Homo sapiens: one gene and its partner. The protein of the gene in region 1 interacts with the protein of each later gene in a biochemical or structural test. Each region holds a gene or a part of one and is shown in the gene's direction. Other genes may lie near its edges.

Region 1 (4,046 bases):
CCTGATGGATATTAACCCCACATCCTCCACTTCCCCCTCTTAACAGCTGCATAATATTCCACAGCAAGCAGATGCCTCCCTACCCTTGGCCACTCCCGCCTGATGGGGCATCGGGTTGTATCCAGTTATGTTTGTTTTTCCCTCCACAGATCTCTTGGTCCATTAGTGGAGAGAACTGAGACATCCTTTCTAAGGGCTGCATTCCTAGAAGGGGAGATTGCTGGGTCACGGAGTTCGAACATTGTTAACGTTAATAGATTCTGCCAAATTATCTTGCAAAAAGCATGCAGCAATTTAAGTTGCAGGCAGCGTGTGGACGCCTGTCTTCCCGCATTCCAGCTCAAAGCCAGCAATGGCTGGGGTCGATCTGGGAGTGTTGGGGGTAGGGGCAGGTGGAGTCACTGCTTAATTTGCATGATTCTGGTTATTCGTGAGATCAGTTTTTTTTTTTAATCGCACTTATGCTTATTGTTTATTAGCGTTTCCTCCCATCTTTGCCTGAAGTCTCCGGGGACTGCCTTTGGGGGTCGGGTAAACTTGTCCCCTGCGAAGAGGGCCCAGGGTTGGGGTCTGGAAACTCCGAGGCTGCACTTGCCAGCGGCCTCTTAAGGCCACAGCGTCCCCGTGGTTTCTGGCTCGCAGCCCCCCGAGACCCAGGACTTGTCCAAGGTCAGGGCACCGCGGGTGCCCCCGGGCTGGGCCGCAGCCAGACTGCGCTTCCCGCGCGCCTTCGCTTTGCACCAGGATCGCCCAGGAAACGCCTGCGGGCACCTTGAGGAAGGTCGGCGGCTCCGGGCCAGCTCGCACTGGCCGGGGGTGGGGCGGGGGCCGTACCTGCTGCGGAAGCCCCGAAAGCTTTCGCCCGGCCCCTCGCCGCCGCCGCGGGGGCTGGCTGGACTAGGCGGGCAGGCTCGAGGATGCGGATGAACCCAAGCGTCCTCGAGTGCCCGGAGGCTCTCCGCCTCAGTTTCCCGCCCAGAGGCAAGGGCGTGCGAGGGGATCCAGATATCCAAGGACCTGAGGTTTCGGCCTCGAGGTCTTGGGCGGGGGACTGGGCAGGCTGCGCGGGGTCCCAGCGAGGGGACAGCTCGGGTGGGCGGCCAGGGTGTTGGGGGCTGCGGGCGGCGGACAAAGCGGCGGCACCACCCCGCGGCGCGGGCCAATGGAATGAATGGGCTATAAATAGCCGCCAATGGGCGGCCCGCGTTGTGCCCCTTAAGAGCCGCGGGAGCGCGGAGCGGCCGCTGTTCGCCTGCGTCGCTCCGGGAGCTGCCGACGGACGGAGCGCCCCCGCCCCCGCCCGGCCGCCCGGTGAGTGGGCCCGGGGGCCGGGGGCGTCCGCGCCCGGGCTAGGGGCGCTGCGTGCAAAGGGGGCGCGTCGCCTGGAGCGCGCGCCGGACCGGCCGGGGGTCCCCGGCGATGATGGCGCTCCCCGCGCGCGCTGCGGACCCCGCTGACCTTGGCCGCGTCCCGGGGGGCGCCGGGGGGCCCGGCGGCGGGGGCCTGAGTGGTACGCGGGAGCCCGGGAACCCCGGCGTGCCGGTCCCCTCTGACCCCGCGTCTCCCCGCAGCCCGCCGCCGCCATGCCCTTCTCCAACAGCCACAACGCACTGAAGCTGCGCTTCCCGGCCGAGGACGAGTTCCCCGACCTGAGCGCCCACAACAACCACATGGCCAAGGTGCTGACCCCCGAGCTGTACGCGGAGCTGCGCGCCAAGAGCACGCCGAGCGGCTTCACGCTGGACGACGTCATCCAGACAGGCGTGGACAACCCGGGTACGCGACCCCTCGGGGCCGGGGTCCCGGCCCCCCCTCCCCCCGCGCAGCCGCAGGGTCCTCAGCAGCGCGCTCGGGCCCGGCAGTGACGTCACTGTCCCCGTCCCGCGCCCCCTCCCCCAGGCCACCCGTACATCATGACCGTGGGCTGCGTGGCGGGCGACGAGGAGTCCTACGAAGTGTTCAAGGATCTCTTCGACCCCATCATCGAGGACCGGCACGGCGGCTACAAGCCCAGCGATGAGCACAAGACCGACCTCAACCCCGACAACCTGCAGGTGCGGGGCTGCGGGCGGGCCGGGCGGGCGGGGCCGGGGTCTTCGGGCGCTCACTCCCGTCTCGCCTCCCAGGGCGGCGACGACCTGGACCCCAACTACGTGCTGAGCTCGCGGGTGCGCACGGGCCGCAGCATCCGTGGCTTCTGCCTCCCCCCGCACTGCAGCCGCGGGGAGCGCCGCGCCATCGAGAAGCTCGCGGTGGAAGGTAGGGGCCGGGCGGGCCGAGGGGCGGCGGCGGCCGCGTCCCCCTCCCGGCGCGGTCCCCGCCCGCTTTTGTTTACGTCGCCCGGGAGCGGCAGCCGCCGTCGCGCTCTTATCTGCGCGCGCCCGGGTTCAGTTTCCCGGAGGGACCGAGGGACGGAGGCCCAGCCCCGCGCCCACAGCGGCCTGGGGCCCAGGGAGGGCGGGTCCTGGCGCGGGGTCACCGCCTGGGACCGTCGCCCGGGCCGTGAGGACTGGACGCCCGCAGATCCGGGCGGGTGGGGCCCTCTGACGTCCCCCGAGGTGGGGCACGGGGGCGGGCGGGTCCGCGCTGCGGGCTGGAGGGGCGGGCGCGGGAGCCGAGCGTCCTGAGCGCACCCCTCGCAGCCCTGTCCAGCCTGGACGGCGACCTGGCGGGCCGATACTACGCGCTCAAGAGCATGACGGAGGCGGAGCAGCAGCAGCTCATCGACGACCACTTCCTCTTCGACAAGCCCGTGTCGCCCCTGCTGCTGGCCTCGGGCATGGCCCGCGACTGGCCCGACGCCCGCGGTATCTGGTGCGTGTCCCTCTGCGCCCTCTCGCGGCGTCCTCCCTCCCCGCTACCTCCGCTTTCCCTCTCGCCCCCCTCGCGGGGGTGGGGCCCCTCGCGGCGAGGAGGAGGAGGAGGAGGAGGGAGGGGCCGGCCGCGCTCCGGGTCTGGGTTCCGTGCCGCGCCTCCTCCTGCGCCGGTGACCTTGGCCGAGCAGGTGCGTTAAGGGACTGGGCCCCGGCCCGTGGGGGCTCAGGACTCAGCAACACCTCCCCACCCCGAGACGTGAGGTGGGGGCGGGGCTCTCTGGCGCCTCTCCCCGACGGCCCTGGGAGCTGGAGCTCTTTGTTTTCTTTTCTCACTCCTCCGCCGCTGGGATTCTACCAGGGGCTGGTGACGCCAAAGCTTCTCCAGGGGCAGGGCTCCTACCCCCACTGTGGGGGGCGGGTCGGGCTGTCCTGGCGGTCCCTGGCCCCGCCCCACCTCAGGCCACAGCGCATGATGGCAGCTGGGGTTCTCCTGCTGTGAGGCGTCCCGGTTCCCCCGCCCGCCCCGTGTTGGCGGGTGGAGTCTTGGCAGCAGCCTCCACTCCTGGGCATGGCAGGGAGCAGCACCTCAGGGACTTGGGAAGTTCCTTTGGTCTGGGGGCGGCCTGGGGCTTTTTTCTGGGTATGCCCTGAGACCAGCCCTCCCGCAGGCACAATGACAATAAGACCTTCCTGGTGTGGGTCAACGAGGAGGACCACCTGCGGGTCATCTCCATGCAGAAGGGGGGCAACATGAAGGAGGTGTTCACCCGCTTCTGCACCGGCCTCACCCAGGTGCCAGGGACGGGGCAGGCCCAGACCCCAGGGCCCCAGCAGGGATGTGGGTGCCCCAGCATCAGTCCCCCCGGGGGATTTCCGGCACTGGGGAGTCTCAGGGCCTGTAGGGGTTTCAGGCAGGCCTTCTCCCTCATACCCTCTTCTCCGTCTGCAGATTGAAACTCTCTTCAAGTCTAAGGACTATGAGTTCATGTGGAACCCTCACCTGGGCTACATCCTCACCTGCCCATCCAACCTGGGCACCGGGCTGCGGGCAGGTGTGCATATCAAGCTGCCCAACCTGGGCAAGCATGAGAAGTTCTCGGAGGTGCTTAAGCGGCTGCGACTTCAGAAGCGAGGCACAGGTGAGCAGGGCAGGTGCTGCGGCTTCCCGTGGCCTTTGGGCAGCCCTGTTTCCTCCGCCCTGACTTGCTGTCTCCCCAGGCGGTGTGGACA
Region 2 (3,500 bases), on another chromosome or scaffold:
CGACCTCGTGATCCACCTGCCTCGGCCTCCCAAAGTGCTGGGATTACAGGCATGAGCCACCGCGCCCAGCTGATTTCTTTTTTTTTTTTTTTAAATGTGTTGTAGAGACATGGTCTCACTAGGTTGTTCAGGTGGATCTTGACCTCCTGGCCTCAAGGGATCCTCTCATCTCAGCCTTCCAAAGTTCTGGGATTATAGTTGTGAGCCACACCCTCAGTCTTTGTTTTAGATTATGGTTGGTTGTTTTTTTTCAGACAGATTACCTACTTCAAGTAGACTTTATATTTGCTTTTGTATTTAATCAAGATTTGTTTATATAAATTGTTTATGTACTGTTAAATCCAAATGCTCTTACACTTTAAGGTTCTATTAGTTTTAGATTTTTTTTTTTTTTTTGAGATGGAGTCTCACTCTGTTGCCAGGCTGCAGTACAGTGGCGGGATCTCGGCTCACTGCAACCTCCGACTCCCTCGTTCAAGTGATTCTCCTGCCTCAGCCACCTGAGTAGCTGGGGATTACACGCACGCACCACCACGTATAGCTAATTTTTGTATTTTTAGTAGAGATGGGGTTTCACCACGTTGGCCAGGATGCTCTTGATCTCCTGACCTCGTGATCCACCCGCCTTGGCTTCCCAAAGTGCTGGGATTACAGGCGTGAGCCACCGCACCTGGCCTAGTTTTAGATTTAAATCGCTAGTTGATATTGTTCCTTTCAGCTCATCAGTTGAAATGGTAGTTGTGTAGAAAAGTTAATGGGTGTTTGCCACAATCTTCTGTGAGTTGAAGTTAGGGTTTGTGACTGTTTCACTTTCTCAACTAGTATTCTCTTTTCGTTTATATGTAATTAAGTAACATTTCGCTGTTTGCGGGCTTTTCTTTTTTGAGATGGAGTTTCCCTCGTGTGTGTGTGTGTGTGTGTGTGTATGTGTGTACGTGTGTGTGTGACGGAGTTTCGCTTTTATTGCCCAGGCTGGAGTGCAGTGGCGCAATCTCAGCTCACTATAACCTCCGCCTCCTGGGTTCAAGCGTTTCTCCTGTCTTAGCCTCCCAAGTAGCTGGGATTACAGGTGCCTGTCACCACGCCTGCTTAATTTTTTTGTATTTTTAGTAGAGACAGGGTTTCACCATATTAGCCAGGCTGGTCTCGAACTCCTGACCTCAGGTGACCCACCCATCTCAGCCTCTCAAAATTCTGGGATTACAGGCGTGAGCCACCGCACCCGGCCAATGGAGTTTCACTCTTGTCATCCAGGCTAGAGTGCAGTGGCGCAATCTTGGCTCACTGTAAACTCTGCCTCCCGGGTTAAAGTGATTCTCCTGCCTCAGCGTCCCGAGTAGCTGGGATTACAGGTGCATATCACCACACCTGGCTAATTTTGTATTTTTAGTAGAGATGGGGTTTCGCCATGTTGGCCAGTCTGGTCTTGAACTCCTGACCTCAAGTGATCCACCCACCTTAGCCTCCCACAGTGCTGGGATTACAGGCATGAGTCACCACACCCGGCCAGTAGAACTCTTTAAACCTGAAAAATCAGTCAACTTTGCAGACTAGAGGAGGATGTTGAACACCTATGTGTGTTTTTTTTTTCTTTACCAACTATGCACCTATTTTTCAGACACCTAAAAGTAATGTCTGTGAAACAGTGGTTTTCTTTTTCTACATATTACAGCAGGAAGTGTTCCTATTTATGTACTGTCTGTATCAATACTAACGGGGCATGATAAGCAAAATTTTAAACTTTGGTAGTTAAACCTTTATGTTGCCTCCCCTCTGGGCTGCCAGCTGTGGGGATGTGCTTCTCCCTTAAGGACTTTGGCAAGAATAACAAGTTCATTGGAATTTGACTTTCTGACATAGAGCAGACAGCCTTGCCCTGTCATGCCAGGCCTTTCATGTGAAGTTACCATTTATTAGCTGCTTCTGTCTCTCCAGGGAAGGATTTCCCTTTTATAAGCCTGGGCCAGGGGGATGATAGTAAGATTCCCCATGTGATACCAGAGTTGGAATAGGCTGTAGTGAGATTAGGGCCAGGACTGTCCCATTTTGATTCTTGAATGGTTTCTGTTACAACTTGTCATGGGGAAAAAGTAACACTTATTTTTTTTTTCCTCCCTTAGAAGACAAAAATACTAATGCATTTGAGAAAGCGGTAGTTTTGGGGGGAGGGGGAAAAAGCAACTGCTTTCCTGATCTGCAACTTGGCTGGATGCTAAGATGTCAGTGGACATGAATAGCCAGGGGTCTGACAGCAATGAAGAGGACTATGACCCAAATTGTGAGGAAGAGGAAGAAGAAGAAGAAGACGACCCTGGGGACATAGAGGACTATTACGTGGGAGTAGCCAGCGATGTGGAGCAGCAGGGGGCTGATGCCTTTGATCCCGAGGAGTACCAGTTCACTTGCTTGACCTACAAGGAATCTGAGGGTGCCCTCAATGAGCACATGACCAGCTTAGCTTCTGTCCTAAAGGTGAGCAGTGTTGTAAACTCCAGTGTAATCCCCCCCAGTTAAATCTAAGGATGAGCTGTTGTTAATTAATGTCTCCTCCAGACTAATTGAATGGCCTTGTAGCTTGAAACCAAATTTAAGTGTATGTCAACATCATTTGGACATTTTGTTACATTTACTTTGTTTTCTAATATATGCATGTCTAAGGTCCTCAGATTCCCAAATTAGTAAGAATTAGAAAGTAGGGGTGGGACAGATTCAAGAAAGATGTACCATACCAGAAATGTGTAGTAGCAGAATTGCACAACTTTGCACGTTTCAGGAAGTGAGTTTTCAGAATTTTATGAGGTTGATACAATAAGCATCAGAATCACCATCTTCTGTACGACTGTGAGTGACTGATAAATGTCTTGAGAGTATACAGATCCCTCTGGTTTGCCCTGAATAGTCATTGCCTTTGGGCTAATGAGCTCATTTGTTTCATGTACTGATTTTAATAATAATTCTTTCTTATGCTTGTATTTCATTGATTTAGGGGGTGTTAGTATGGAAATTGTAAAGAATGAACAAAGTTGATTACCCCATCAGCAAGCATTTTATTTAACACATAAGCTAAAACATACCTTTGGATGTCTTGTACCTTAGGCCAGTTATTATCCTATTTACATTTTTTATGATCATTTTGACAGTTTCCCAACAAGCATGTTTCCTTCTCTAACACTGGCCATTATGGGAAATTGGAAATATTTCTCTTTAGTGTTTTCACTAATCTTTTTTCATGAATTGTTACTTGGATTTTGTTTCTGATTAAATTGGAGGTCAAAAGGGCACCTTGGCATGATGTCAACCAAATAAATTTTATTGGAACTTAAACAGAAATAACTAAGGTGTGCCTTGTATGATTTCTATAAAATTTGCTTTATCTACTAGTTTAGGGATTTTTTTTTTTTTCCCCAGATGGTTGGCAAAGGCTAATACCTTGAATTTAGATACTCAGGTCTTTATTAGCAACTGGCTGGAAGCTGAAAGCTAAGTTGTTTTTTTTTTTG

Evidence for each region. The genes of interacting proteins can lie anywhere in the genome.
Region 2: of the proteins of CKB (region 1) and ARIH2, one has a biochemical effect on the other in vitro, tested with the Homo sapiens proteins (2 studies listed by BioGRID).

What each region holds. Positions count from the first base shown.
Region 1 is NC_000014.9:103,520,031-103,524,076, reverse strand, and holds the start of CKB (creatine kinase B-type), read left to right. Parts: upstream 1-1,246; 5' UTR 1,247-1,311; intron 1,312-1,571; 5' UTR 1,572-1,583; coding exon 1,584-1,776; intron 1,777-1,899; coding exon 1,900-2,054; coding exon of another isoform or gene 2,055-2,126; coding exon 2,127-2,259; intron 2,260-2,642; coding exon 2,643-2,814; intron 2,815-3,484; coding exon 3,485-3,608; intron 3,609-3,765; coding exon 3,766-3,955; intron 3,956-4,034; coding exon 4,035-4,046. UniProt on the Homo sapiens protein: Reversibly catalyzes the transfer of phosphate between ATP and various phosphogens (e.g. creatine phosphate).
Region 2 is NC_000003.12:48,925,342-48,928,841, forward strand, and holds part of ARIH2 (E3 ubiquitin-protein ligase ARIH2), read left to right. Parts: exon of another isoform or gene 1-2,120; 5' UTR 2,121-2,217; coding exon 2,218-2,472; coding exon of another isoform or gene 2,473-2,514; exon of another isoform or gene 2,515-3,330; intron 3,331-3,500.